2 linked regions of the Homo sapiens genome follow. The protein of the gene in region 1 interacts with the protein of each later gene in a pairwise test. Each region holds a gene or a part of one and is shown on either strand. Other genes may lie near its edges.

Region 1 (8,114 bases):
TATTATCTACAGCATATCTTAATCAAAAGTTATACAGAAAGAGGCAACACTTGCATATTTCAAGTGAGTTTTTTTTTTTTTTAAGGATTTACAGTTACAGGGATAGATGTCTGTATTTCTTTTGACAAATTCTTATTTCATCTCTTTTTGGGGAGCGTTGGTCCAGGAAATAGAGACCATATGAAATTCTATGCTGCATGTCAAGAAAATAGCTAAGATAAAATGGGGACTAGGAATTTGGTCCCAGAAGTTTTCATTTCTCCCTGACTATGAGCAAGTCCTTTATGGAGTTCCTTTTCTCCTTCTTTCTCTTCTGATCCTCCCTCTCTTGCTCCTTCCCTGCCTCAAGTTGTCACACCTCCTTGTCTTCTTCAATCTGTAACAATTTCTCAGTCTTTCATGACCTTGACACTTTTGAAAGTACTTGTCAGATATTTTGTAGTGGCAAAAACCACAATTAGTTTTGCAACAACCTAACAGAATATCTCTCAGTTTGAGTTTGTCTGATGTTTTCTTACAAAAACACTGAGGTTCTGAATTTTAAAGGAGAATATTGCAAAGGAGATATGCCTTTCTTGTCACATCGTATTGGAGCACATGATATCTCCATGACTAATTACTGGGGAGGTTTAACCTTGATCACTTGGTTAAGGCGATGTTTGCCAGGTTTCTCTACTATCACGTTTTTCTTTTTCTTTCTTTCTTTCTATGTTTTATTAGTTATACAGGTGTGACTTTTTTTTAAACCCAAGGGTTTAAGAATTGTTTTATTTAGTTTCCAAATTTATGGGATTTATGGAAGCTATCCTTTTGTCAAAATATCTAATTTTATTGTATAATTATAGAGTACATAGTTTGTATGCTAGTGATTTTCAGGAATTTATTAATGCTTCTTTGTGACCTGATTTATGATCTATTTTAATAAATGTTTCAAGTATGCTTGAAAAGACTCTGGTTTTCCCCATGACTTAATTTCTACATCAATGAAACAGGAAGAACCAAAACATCCAATTCCTTTTATTTATTTTTTGAAGGCTGCAAAACCAAAGACCAAACCGAAAGAGAAAAATACTGCATTTGTTCTTTTTGACTCTTTATTTTGCAAACTCACAATAGGGATATCTTGACACAAGTAAACATACTAGGGGAGAGAGAAAAATGAAAATATCTGTCCTTCCTGTGGATTCGTTACCACTGGGTAACAGGTGCTTAATCCTCCGTGGGGGCACAATTTCAGATTACAGAGGGTCTGGCCAGAGCGGAGGAGTAACCACCTGTGATAATGATTCTGATCTGTGTTCCATTCCTTAGAAGCCCTCTGGCCTTAGCTAATCTGTCTAAGTAAAGTTGGGTCTTTGGTGTACTGCCATGAAGTATCGCTGTATGCTGAGGTGGGGTGGCTGATGGCAGTGGGCTAGTCGTTCAGCCTAGTTGCTTAAGAGACAGCATGGATCCTCATCTGTATTTGCCATGGGAAGAGGCATTCGATGATTAAAGACTTCACGCTGCAGATTTAAGTCAGATCTTTAATGGCCACCCTTTCAGGTTGTTTACCATAGGACGCCATGCCCCTCGGCTGCTGCCCTGACACTCTCCTGCTGTCTCTGGCTGCTTCTCTTCTGTGAACCCTCACGGATCCTATTGTTGGTTCCCCACCTCCTCCTGGGCATCATCATCAAGGCTCACCTTCTAGCTTCTAGGAGATCTCAAGCCTTTCCAAATATGATGAGTCATCAAGAAATATGAAACTTTATATGGGCGTTTATTGCGCTATTTGTTTCAACTTTCCTATATGTTTGAAATTTATCGAAGTTCACAGTTAGAAAAAAATCCACTTGCTTTTCCTCTCTAAAAAAGTTAGTATAGGTTGATGATCCCTTACCCAACATGCTTGGGACCAGAAGTGTTTTGGATTTTGGATTTTTTGGGATTTTGGAATATTTGCATATACATAATGAGGTAACTTGGGGATGGGACCCAAGTTTAAGCACAAAACTTATGTTTCATATATACTTTTTATACACATAGCCTGAAAGTAACTTTATACAATATTTTAAATAATTTTGCACATGAAACAAAGGTTTGTGTTTTGACTGAGACCCATCACATAAGGTCAGGTGTGGAATTTTCCACTTGTGGCGTCATGTTGACACCCAAAAAGCTTCAGGTTTTGGAGCATTTCTTTTTCTTTCTTTTTTTTTTTTTTTCTGAGACAGGGTCTCTCTCTGTCGCCCAGGCCGGAGTGCAGTGGCATGATCTTGTTTCACTGCAAACTCCACCTCCCGGGTTCAATTGATTCTCCACCTCAGCCTCCTGAGAAGCTGGGACTACAGGCGTACACAAGCATGGCTGGCTAATTTTTTGTATTTTTTGTAGAGATGGGATTTCCCTATGTTGCCCAGGCTGGCCCTGAACTCCTGGGCTCAAACGATCTGCCTGCCTTGGCTTCCCAAAATGCTGAGATTACAGGTGTCAGCCACCACTCTCAGGCAGGTTTTGGAGGATTCTGGATTTCAAATTTTTGTATTAGGGATGTTTAACCTGTAAACTTCAACGCTTGGCAGTGTTGCAAGTGGTCTGCACTTTATCTGGATGAAGACAAAGAATGGTGCTAACATTTGTCTATGAACAGATGGGAAATCTTGCTGAGGAAAGGACAATGATTCTCAAGCAAAAGGGGAAAAGGGAGAGAGAAAAGAGAGCACCTGGAACTCAAGAGTATCAAGAATGGGAGGTGGCAACAGGATGATTTGCAAATAATATTTGGCTATCATTAGAACAATAAACTCTTCACTATACAAGGTTGTATGGTGTATTGGAAAGAGCATGAAATCAGAGAAACTTCATTAGACTTCAAGTTTTGCTCTATATTAGCTGTGAGATTTTGCCTAAGACAATTGACCATTCTGATTCCACAGTCTTTATACATGCAAATGCTAAAACAGTTGTAACAGTGGAGATACATTGTGAAAAATGTGTCATTGTGCAAACAAAATAGGATGTACTTATGCAAACCTAGATGGTATAGCCTACTACATACTTAGGCCATATAGCATAGCCTATTGCTCTGACCACCATCATATATGCAGTCTGTCATTGACCCAAATATTGTTATGCAATGCATGACTGTAATAATAATAATACTTGCCACATAGGTAAAAATACTGTCATTAACGGTGTAGTAAAATGGTAACTGGCATAGTAATGCTGTAAATTGAATACAATTTTTAGAAGGTTTTGAGGAGGGAGGTTCAGAACTGTTCTCCATTGATTTGCTTAACAAAGATATTTTCATTTTCCACCAAAGGGTTTGGCTGTGAAAACCTTTGCAGAAATAATATTTTAGGAGTTTTTTCCCCCTGTACTGTCAACTGATTTTTAGTAAGCATATGACTTTCTGTATGTATCATCCAATTGATTTAAAAATGAATCAATGAATGTATTTATTGATCGCCTGCCTCGCTTCACAAAGGAATGTGAGGAAGGACACCCAATTTGGCATTGCTGTGTTTCTCTGTATTTGGGTCATGCATTTTTTCTTGCTTTCCACATTGAAAATGTGGTGGATGCAGTAGATTGGCTTTAAGTGTCAGGCCTTCCCTCATTTACTATACCTTTTTGTGTTTCACAAGCTGGAAAGCTACCAACTACATGCTCTAGACATCCTTGCTGCTAATATTCTGCATGTCAGATTGGTCTCACCAATGGCACGCAGCAAAGCAAGATTTGCAGGTGCTGTTTTCTTGCTGCTGGCAAATGCAGCCGTGGAGACCACCGTTTTTTGCAGCACTGTTCCAGTGTCCTGTTAATTGTTCTGTCGGTGTTGAGAGGAGGTTGGGGACCAGGCATGGCAACTTCCTGACGCCATCTTCCTGATTGTGGGCAGCAGCCACAATCAGCAATCTTATCTAGGTAGTCATCCATGGATGTTCAGCTCAGCCCTTCTCCAGCCTTTCCAATGATTTCGAATGTCCCCAATTCCCCCTAACGAATCCCTTTCTGACTAGGAGTAACTAGCTGAGTGCTGCAATGAAATCCTGACTGACAGATTTGTAAACTCTTTGCGGGCAGGAACCCTTGATATAAATAAATGACCTTGCATTTTAATGGAGGGAAGCAGAAGGATAAACAAATGAATAAGTGAAAAGTTTTAATAAGATGGTGATGCGTAAAAAATAAAGCTGGTTAATGGGGAGTGCAGGAAATGAGCGCAGCTGTCTTGCCGTTTTAATCAGATAGGTCAGAGAAGGCTTCTCTACTAGGGTGGCTTTTGACCTGCCTCTCTGTTAGGTCAATTGTGTGCGAGGCCCTGATGGAGTTACTGTGTTAAAATGCAATGATTCAATTACTCCATTACTTAGATACCCTTTAAGTGACACTACGGTTGTCCATCTCCCCGCTATTGAATTGTTTACCCACAGTAAGCATGGCGGGAAGAGCTTCGATCCGACCCTTGAACGCTCAATAAAAATGGCGACAGCACTTCCTGTACTTGCCCTCAACAAAGATGGTGTCAACACTTCCTGTTTAGGGTTTTCGCCATTAACAAAGATGGTGCTTATGGGGCAGGTTCCCTAACAGTCAGGATTCCGGTTGCAGTTTTTCTCCCCCGCCCCAAAGATACGTGGTTGCAGACGTAAGTAACAGGAATCCATCTTTCTTTGAAAGTCCTGCATTGTAGCGTCTGCGACCTGGGCCCTGCGGGGGCTTCCCCGCCCCGCTAACTTGCTCCGCATTTCCGATCCGGGCCAAGGCTGGGTGGCTGCGGCAGTGCCGGAGGCCCGCTCTCCCCTTGGTCCGCTCTTTAGTTCATTCCCAGCACTCCCTCTTTAGCGGGTCAAGTTGCCGCAGAAACCGCCCGTAGTCTTCCTGTTTGATACAAGGGTTTCAGCGGCCGAAGCAGAGCCTTTTTAAATAGTTCCCAATGGGCGCTCACGGCCAAACGTGAACACCTCCCCTCCTCACCTGTCACCTCCTGAACTTTACAGGGTTGCGAGGGGGAGTGTGGGATCGGGTGTCGCCTAGCCGTGGTCGTACTGCCCGGGTGTGTCTGAAGCCCCATCTGTCATCCCTGCCTGCCTTCCCGGTCACTTAACCTTCACTGCCTTACACACAACCAAGCCACAGCACACTGGTGCAGGGGTGGTGGAACTGCACCTTCAAATCGTGCCTGGCTACTGACCAGTGCTGGGGTGTGTGCTTTTTTTGAAAGAAAAAAATCCCATAAAATGTCCCATGCATGTGCGGCCACGACAGTGTTGTGCTGGAGATTCGGAATTCTTAGTGGGAAGGAATGGAGTCTGTGACTGTATATTGTGTAAAGTTTATTGTAGACTGGGCACAAACAACAATTTTCTTAAAGGTGATCGTGTAGAGGACTTTTAGCGAAAAGAGCCTTAAATTCTGAACCTGCTGATTTCTGTCCTGCACTCCTATTACTGATCAGGTTTTGCAAATACTTGTGATCAAAAAAAGGGGACCTGCGTCCACCTTGGCAGTTTCTGCCTTGGTGGTGGTGGTGCAGGTCTGATGAGGGCAATGTGAAAATAAAACCACCATTTCTTCTCCAGCGTGTTAAAATTAGTGCTGCTCTGTAATCTTCAGATAAAAATTGCTTGTTCAGAAGGGTCTCTGACCCACTTTTTTTTTTTCTTTTTCCAAATTTCTTTATTGAACGAGGAATTGAGCTGGGACCCCATTGTGTGAAAAGCAGAAACAGAAAAGATGATTCATCTTCATTGTTGTTCATTATGTTAGGAAACATTCAAAATTAACCTGGCTTGGCTTAATCAGTGAATTAAATACCATGACCTGGCAGTCTGCTATGGTTTAAAGATGTGCTTGACCTGAAGGAACTTACATTGCAGTGACACTGTCTTTAGGGCCACATCAACATGTCTGTAATTTGAGCTGTGATTTTGGCTCTTTCCAGGGAGAAATGGAGGCCAGAGACAAACAAGTACTCCGCTCACTTCGCCTGGAGCTGGGTGCAGAGGTATTGGTGGAGGGACTGGTTCTTCAGTACCTCTACCAGGAAGGAATCTTGACGGAAAACCATATTCAAGAAATCAATGCTCAAACCACAGGCCTCCGGAAAACAATGCTCCTGCTGGATATCCTACCTTCCAGGGGCCCTAAAGCATTTGATACATTCCTAGATTCCCTACAGGAGTTTCCCTGGGTCAGGGAGAAGCTGAAGAAGGCAAGGGAAGAGGCCATGACCGACCTGCCTGCAGGTAGGCCTCAGAAAGATCACTTTGAACCAGCTCCAAAATGTTGTAACTATGCTCTTTGCTTTTTTGTTTATTTGTTTGTTTGTTTTTGAGACAGAGTCTTGCTCTGTTGCCCAGGCTGGAGTGCAATGGTGTGATCTCGGCTCACTGCAACCTCTGCTTCCTGGGTTCAAGCAATTCACTTGCTTCAGCCTCCCGAGTTGCTGGGAATACAGGCATTTGCCACCATGCCCTGCTAAGTTTTGTATTTTTAGTAGAGATGGGGTTTCATCATGTTGGCCAGGCTGGTCTCGAACTCCGTACCTCAGGTGATCCACCCACCTCCGCCTCCCAAAGTGCTGGGATTACAGACGTGAGCCACCACACCTAGCCAGAACTATGCCCTTTGGATTTGAAGTTGGGATGTAAGGCAGGACAAGGGTCAATGGTTGATGAAAGTGGGTAAGGATTTGGGACTGAAGGGACATGACGTTGGAGGAATAGGATCAGGAGGTGGCATTAGGAAGTGCAGGGAAGGAAGAATGAACCGTGACTGGGAGGTGAGGGAGGGAGCTCAGAGAATGCATTTAGAAATGCTTCCAGGAAACCTGGCATGTCACTTGGGAAGCATGTTCTCATCAGAGAGCCAGGTCATATCTCAGCCGTTGGCATCAGGAGCCATTTGGAAAGTGCAGATGGGAAAGCAGGCATTCGGCCTACTGACAACTGATTTGTGAGGTGCCAGAGCTACCAGCTGGAAAAGGTCAGATTCATGGAGGAGGAGACAGCCTCTAGGAAGGCATGCCCTGCACCTGTCCCCTGGGCTGTCCTGTGTGGCCAAAGGGGATTATTTTGAAGGCTGACTTAGTTTGTTTTTAAAGGTTATTCGTTTAAAGTGTCCTTTTTAGTTTAGCTTTGTTCAGACACTGGAGTATTTAATTTTGCAAAGAGCAATAGTTTGGGGAGGGTCTCAGTTTAATTTGAAGGAGAATTGGAAGCTGGAGAAGAGAGAAACAGTTCTGGTTCTGTTAGCCTGGCTTGTAGCAGGAAGAAGATGTGATATGGAAACACTTGCTTTTTCTTAACCTCCCTTGACTCTGTTTCACAAAGATAGAGGGGCAGAGAACTGAACTGGCAAAAATTAAAAATTGAAAAAAAAAAGTAATTGAAAGTTGGCTTGCAAATTTTTAACAAAGTTAGAGAATCAAGGTTCTCTGGGGTTTCTGATAAGAGTGATAGAACTATTCCGGTTCAGTGGGCCCCAGACTTCGTGGTTGCTATTTTTTAAATACTGGTTAAAAAAAATGAATACTGATAATAAGACCACTTTTACTATTTTTGCTCCATGGACCTCATATTTTGACATATGTCTGAATACCTGATCAGCATGACATAGCCAGCTAACTTTAGGAAGACCTGGTAAGATCCCAGTGGAAAAAGCAAAAGTATTTTCATTCCTAGTCTGGGCTCGTTACAGTTAAATGTATCTTTAGGCTTTTTGAAATATTAGACATAGCTGGCTTTTGAGGACCACTGGAATTCACTGCTTGGATTGTCCTTACAAAATTAAATACTCCACATGTCTGAACAAAATGTATCTAGATGTTTTTATGACTTTATTGAAAGCAGAATAGATAACATAGAGTTGGAGAAATGTTAAAAAATTATTGGTGTTTTCCTGATATTTGACTTAGAGGTTTCTGCTGGCATCATATAGTTGGAAACAACAAAACAGGTGAACTGAAAGCCTTTCACTATCAAAATACTGAATTTAATTTTATGGTCATTTTGGGTGATACAGATCATGCTGTTGTATGTCATTCGTAGAGGTATAATACCATTTTTTTTTTTTTGAGACGGAGTTTCACTCTTGTTGCCCAGGCTGGAGTGCAATGGCGCGAT
Region 2 (7,068 bases), about 12 Mb from region 1:
AGTGACTACCCTTGACTGGTTCACAGTTTGTTCCAGAGACAGATAATGAGGCAACAGTTCCAGTACAGTGTGAATCCTGCTGCGATAGGAACACAAATGCAGCTTTGAGCTCCTGCAGCTTGTACTTCTTCAGGGGCTTATTCTCTTGTCCTGTAAGTAGTACACTTTTGAGGTAAGGTGAAGACAACAGCACTGTTGCTTGCTCGGTTTGTGTTTTGTTTGTTTCTTTTGCGATTGGCATAACGGAACAAAGAAATAAAAGATGTAGTTCTGAGGTTATGCAGTTGAGTGGCCCGGCTGGGAGCAGCCCTCTCCAACCAAATCAGGCCTTTCTTTCCTCAAACAAGATAATCTCAAAACATAACCTGGTGGTTTTATATGTCTTCACTGTGGAGATGTTTTGTGCTGTTCCTCTTTTTGTTTATAACCTATTTTTCCTTTCAATAGACTTGGTTCTTTTTTTTTTTTTTTTTTTTTTTGAGACAGGGTCTCGCTTTGTTGCCCAGACTGGGGTGCAGTGGCATGAACACGGCTCACTGCAGCCTCAGCCTCCTGGGCTCAAGCGATCCTCCCACCTCAGCCTTCTGAGTAGCTAGGACTACAGGCATGCATCACCACGCATGGCTAATTTTTTAATTTTTGTAGAGACAGAGTCTTGCTGTGTTGCCCAGGGTGGTCTTGAACTCCTGGGCTCAACCAATCTTCCTGTCTTGGCCTCCCAAAGTCTTGGTTCTTTTCACTAGGACATTCTCTTCCTCCACCAAATTATGGAGATAAGAACTTTGTTTATAACCTTAAAATTTTCTCAGTAGTCAGTGGTGTTAACATTGGGCCACTACACAATTACACACACTATTCTTGAGAATGTCTAGGAGTGTTTTATTAGGTAATACCCAGTTTCTTTAAGGTAAAGGAGTGATAGGGAGCTGAGGCTGTGTGCATAGGGTGCTTGGATTTGTTTCTCTGGCCGAGCATACCCTTAAAAGTGTCGGGCAGTAGAAAATGGATGGAATTCCACTCCTGAATCTGCTACTGTTACTTTTGGCAAGTTACTCAATCTCTCTGAGGTTGTGTTTGGAGGTATGTAAAATAAAAATAAAAATAGCTATTTAGTTGAGTTGTTAGGAAGAACAAGTAACATATGTAAAGTGTCTCCATGCTGGCATGCCATAGTAACCCCATAAATGATTGCTGTTGTTATCTTTGTAAGTGAGATATACCAGTGTCTTTCTGACCGTGTCTTTCTGACCGTGGGATTTTGAGCTACTGGTGTGCCTTTGCTTTATTCTTGGTCTCATTCCTTCTTTATGTCTCAGAATATCTCTGTTGTTCCAAACCAAAGTTTGAGCAGACACAGTATAGTAAATGAGGATAGCCAGTGTCCAAGGTAGCTGGTTATATTTTTTCCAGAGGTGATCACTGCCAAGTTAAATTAAAAAGGGAAGACCAGAGTTTCCCTGTCAGTTCTAATGGGCATCACAGTTGCATTTCCACGATATAAGGAAAAAGGACACTTGTGATGTAGTTCTCTGGCAGGTATTGTGGGCGGGAACATGGTAGTAGCATCCAGCTCCAGTCTGCCCCTGTCCTGCCTCCAGTCAGGGCTGTACGCTGTGGACCAAAGATCATGCTCGCTGATGAGAGCCACCCTGCTGGTGACCTCAGTGCTGCCGACCCATTTACATCCCAGCCCTGCCACATTCCTACAGTGGGAGGTTGAACACATTTCTTAACCTTGATGAGCCTCAGTTTCATCATCAGTAAAATGAAGTTAATGGAACCATGGAATCTACCTTGGAGAGTTGCTAGAAGAATTAAATGAAGTCACATATGTTTAGTGCCCAGCACAGCGTCCAGCACATAGGTGGTACAGAGTAAGTGGTAATTTTAGTTTTCTTTCTACCCTCTTTGTGGAGGACATTCATGCAAACCCTCTCTTTCCCTTTTTACCTCTTTTCTTCCAGTCTGTTTTTATCCCTTAGAGTATTAAATGCAATAAACAGGATTTGGCTAAATGGACATAGTAGTATTTTTGAAAAAACTAGCCACAATCCAGTTATATCACTTCTCATTCTCCTGAATCAGTGTGTTTAACCTACTGGTTGACATCCATTAGTAGATTATGAAATCCAGTGGGTCACAACCACAATTTTTGTTTATAAATGGAATAGACTAAAATAGGAAAAAGCCACAATGTGTATGCATATTATCGATAAATATTGTTTGGGAAAACCTTTGTTCAGGTCCTGATGTATTTCATACTGTGATTATGAATTTTTGAAAGTTCAGAGAGCTCTTCTAACACAAATTATACACTGTACAAATTCTGTGTTGTTTTTCTTTCACTGAGAGCTTTTTTAAACATGATGTTACAATTTCCTTATTCATTATTGCACAGTGGCTCTTCTATGGATAAGCATTGGTACTGAAGACAGTACATTAGTCCTGGTGTTTTTAGCCCGGAAGACTGGGCAAAGCGGGATAAGCATGCATTGCTGTGAAGCGCATCAGAGTTTTGGAGCAGAGTCTGGGTAGAGCATGTGTGGTGGGAGGTAATGATCCCAATGCATAGGTTCTTATTCTAGTTTTTTGAGGGTGCTTTGGGGTCAGTTACTGTTCCTTTACCTGAAATAAGTTAGAAAAAGAAAAGGAGGAATTGCAATTTATTTGCAGGGAAATAATGAGCCTTAGTGAGTTGTATTTGGTAAAGTGCTTTGATATCACCTCAAAGGCATTCCTGAAATTATTCTTCATTCTATGCCTAATGGGTTATATTTTGAAGTTGTGATCCAATTATTGCTAACATAGTACTTTAAATTCCCACTGTGCTGGGCACATTAACGAAAATCCCTTGAGTAGATCTGCCTCTGTGCACCTTAATTCTTGTTCGTACACCATCCAGTATGTAAATATTTCTCTAGTGCTTTTTGTGTTCTGAGCACCGTGGATGAAAATGATAGGAAATGCCTTTCAGCTTATGACTTTGCTCAGCTGCTCTCTGAGCACTGAGGAGTTTGTCTTCCTAAAAACGGTAAACTAGCATTCTTATTAAGTTGCTATTTGAGTTTTATGTCCAGAGCTGCTGCTGGTGGGCCCAGGGGTTGTGAAATTTCTTGGCCGTGAGTTTGAAAATGGTTGAATAAAATATAATTAAAAACAAGCAGGCCAGGTGCGGTGGCTCACACCTGTAATCCTAGCATTTTGGGAGGCCATGGTGGGTGGATCACCTGAGGTCAAGAGTTTGAGACCAGCCTAGCCAACATGGTGAAACCCTGTCTCTACTAAAAATACAAAAAATTAGCCAGGTGTGGTGGTGGGTGCCTGTAATCCCAGCTACTCAGGAGGCTGAGGCAAGAGAATCCCTTGAGCCCGGGAAGCAGAGGTTGCAGTGAGCCGAGATCGCACCATTGCACTCCAGCCTGGGCAACAAGAGCGAAACTCCATCTCAAAAAAAGAAAGAAAGAAAGAAAAAGAAACAAGGAAATCGTAGTACCATAAGAGGAAAGAATGACACACTCCTACACTCCTGCAAGACATCCAAGATTACAAAAAACCAGACTGCTGGTTCCTGCTGGGATGATCACACTACAGCTGTGCTAGATGACCACACCCCAGGTACACAGATAGGCCTGACCTGTGTTTATCTTATGGACTTGAGAGGAGAGGCTGCCCTTTTAAACACTTTTTTTATTGGATAGACTTTACTGGTGCTTAGGTAGGGGCTAAAGTCAGAACAGATAATAGCCCTTCAGTCATAATCTTTTAAAAACTGGCTTTTCTGGCTCCAATTCTGAAATTGCCCTGACACTGTAGTCTAAAGGATTAGAAAGCGAGCTCTAAACCAGAGCTCCAGGAATCAAATGGTACTGGTACTATCAATAAAAGAAGCCAGGGAACCAACAGGTACCTTTCTTTCCTCGCATTCTGGTTTCTGCATGTGCGGGTGTGTGGATCTTCCTCCTCCTCTGTAACTTTTCCACTTAGAAATGAAATTGACCTTTTTTCTTCTTTTCTTCCAGACTCGCTCTTTACTGAGCGTGTTTGAAGAAGATGCTGGCACCCTCACAGACTATACCAACCAGCTGCTCCAGGCAATGCAGCGCGTCTATGGAGCCCAGGTATGCTGCCACCCCTCACCTGGATACCGCAGAGTGGGCATTCTCTCCCCTCATCCTGAACTTCCCTCAGAGGTTGAGAAATTGGAATCCGAAAAACATCATTTAAGATTTTGAAACAAAATCAGAACTGTTTTCTCACTACTTTTCACCTCAAAAACCTAAGGACAGTCTGTTCTCATTGCTTAAGAGTGATTTGTCTTTAATTAGAACCATTAGAGATGGGCCACATAACTGCTCCTAATTTTTTTTTTTAAATTCAACCCAGTGGGAAACATTTGAGTCTCCTCTTCCTACTTGTGAATAAGTGGGTCCAGTATTTTGACACATACTCTTTGTCTTTTTCATAAATGGGCAGAGTCTTAGATGTCAGTGTGGGAGGGCAGAGATGTTTTTTCAACTGCTTCCTCTGAAAAGACTTGAGTCACAGTTCTGAAACTATCGGGTGGCTTCTTTGTTTGTGGAACAAATATCTCTGGCTTGCAAAAGCATGCAAAAGAAATTGCTGAGTAGCAAAAGTGAATCTTTTTAATGTCAAGAAGTGCCCATGTATGTTGCTTTCTAAGAGAAGATTTATGAGTTACTTAAAAATAAAATGCTTTATGTTACAAAGCATTGAACACATCACAATATTATGGTAACTGATCATTTTCATTGTTGATTCCTTGCTGACTTAAATCTTATGTGTTGATATTTTTCTCATTAATAATCTCTTAAGGAATATAGATTGGGCATCCCAAATTTGAAAATCCAAAATCCGAAATGCTCCAAAATCTGTAACTTTTTGAGTGCTGACACGACACATAAACGAAATGCTCATTGGAGCATTTTGGAGTTTTGGATTTGGGAAGCTCGACTGATACAGCAAATACTTCAAAATCTGAAAAAATCCTAAATCCTTCTGGTCCCAAGCATTTCAGATGCAGGGTACTTAACCTATACCACATTCAGTAGTATATAGCTCTTACTAATATATATAGTCATTTCTTATTACATAGGTTCACCACTCTATTACTGCTCATTGTTTTATTAGTCATTTCCCATCATATGGGAATAAGACTCAGTCCTTGCCGTTGGGGAGCTGACAGTTGGGTTGGGAGGCAGACAAAGCAATCACCAGAGAGCCTTAGAGGGGCCAGGAGAGGAGAGCCACCTAACCTAGTGGGGTTGTGCTGGGCACGCAAAAGGAGGGTGATTGTAAGAGTTGAGATTTATTGAATACTTAATAGCATCCAGGAACTTCCAGGGGCTTTTATGTTGATTATTTTATTTAAATTCCCCTAACAACTCTGAGGTGGGTATTGTTATTGTTATTATGCCTATGGTATTGGTTGGGAGACTTAAGGATTCTGATGGTGAGAAACTTGTCCAGGTGCACCCATTTAATTCATGGCAGAGCAAATCAGCTGGAGCCAAGCTGAGACTCTTCACTCCTAAGCATAGGGGAGGTGGCAGTAGAAGTGGAAAGAAGCAGCTGTACTTGAGAGGTATTTAGGAGGTGGATTGGTGATTGATTGGGTATGAAGGGGTCAGGTGGTAAAGGATGAATCAAGAATGATGTTCAGGTATTCATCTGGAACGGCAGGGTGGATACATGGGAGAACACAGGAAGAGGCGCAGGGTGCGTATGAGTGTGTGTGCGTGCCTGTGAGTGCATATCTGTCATGGGGATGCCCAACTGTAATTCTCTCTGGAAACACTGATTTTGAGGAGTTCATGGGACATCAAAGTGGATAAAGAGATCTTGTTGAAAGTTCAGATCCAGAGTACAGGGCTGGAGATATAGATAGGCAAACTATGCAGTAAGGTATAAGTGTAACTTATTAATTAGAACTAGCTTTGGGCTGGCCTGTAATCCCAGCACTTGGGAGACCAAGACGGGAGGATTGCTTGAGGCCAGGAGTTTGAGACCAGCCTAGTCAATATAGTGAGGACCTGTATCTACACAAAATTTTTGTAAATATTAAAAAAAGGACTAGAGTCTTTTTTTTTTATTTTTAATTTTCAGAGACAGGGTCTTACTCTGTCACCCAGGATGGAGTACAGTGGCATGATTATACCTCACTGTAGCCTCTAACTCCACGGCTCAAGTAATCCTCCTGCCTCAGCCTCCTAAGTAGCTAGGACTACAGGTGCACACCACCACACCCAGCTAATTTTTTTTCTTTTTGATTTTTGGTAGAGATAAGGTCCTACTATGTTGCCCAGGCTGGTCTGAAACTCCTGGCCTCAAGTGATCTGTCTTAGCCTTCTGAGTAGCTAGAACTAGTTTTAATGACCAAAAGAATTATGTGTTCACCTGTGATTTTATGTGTTTTGTTAAGACATTCAGAATTTAGAGAAATGAGAACTTCGTCAATTTTTGTTTTTGTATTTTTCCCTAAATATTCTAGATTTAAGAAAACAGGAATGTTCTTACTGGGCTTATACCTGAAATTGCTTGCTATTCAGCAATTTGTATTTCGTCACTAAGTGATTTGTCTCTTATTTAAGGCTTAAAAACCCAAGACGTGAGAGACTGTGTCTCTGTCACTCTGAGGAGTCTCTGTTCTGCCTTTCGGTGTCTGTCAGAATCATCTACTTGGGGTTATCCAAACGCTGTCTCATGCATTTTTTTCTGTTGAGGCAGAAAACGACATTTTGCCAAAATTAAGTGGGTCTTTCCTTCCTAGAGGCTGTAACCCAGCTTTTAATGCGCAGCATATGATCATCACGTGGGTTCTCCTGCTGGCCAGAAACCCTTCCTCCTGCCTCAGCGTTTCCTGCAGCACAGGCTGGTGAGAATGTCTGGTTAGTGCTGCCAGATTCAAAGACAGAGTCAAGCAGTGATCAGCTGTGTTCAGATTGGCTGGGCCAAGGACACTTGGTTTTTCAGGTTTCTTTGAAAGCTTAGGTGTTTCGTTTTGTTTTTAATTGAAGAAAGAAATCTTTTCTGATTCCTGTTTTGATCTGT

Evidence for each region. The genes of interacting proteins can lie anywhere in the genome.
Region 2: the proteins of CRADD (region 1) and APPL2 interact in binary tests that used the Homo sapiens proteins (3 or more experiments, as listed by UniProt).

What each region holds. Positions count from the first base shown.
Region 1 is NC_000012.12:93,672,837-93,680,950, forward strand, and holds the start of CRADD (death domain-containing protein CRADD), read left to right. Parts: upstream 1-4,538; 5' UTR 4,539-4,636; intron 4,637-4,734; exon of another isoform or gene 4,735-5,192; intron 5,193-5,932; 5' UTR 5,933-5,938; coding exon 5,939-6,236; intron 6,237-8,114. UniProt on the Homo sapiens protein: Adapter protein that associates with PIDD1 and the caspase CASP2 to form the PIDDosome, a complex that activates CASP2 and triggers apoptosis.
Region 2 is NC_000012.12:105,226,175-105,233,242, reverse strand, and holds part of APPL2 (DCC-interacting protein 13-beta), read left to right. Parts: exon of another isoform or gene 1-3,600; coding exon of another isoform or gene 3,601-3,615; intron 3,616-4,019; coding exon 4,020-4,118; intron 4,119-7,068. UniProt on the Homo sapiens protein: Multifunctional adapter protein that binds to various membrane receptors, nuclear factors and signaling proteins to regulate many processes, such as cell proliferation, immune response, endosomal trafficking and cell metabolism.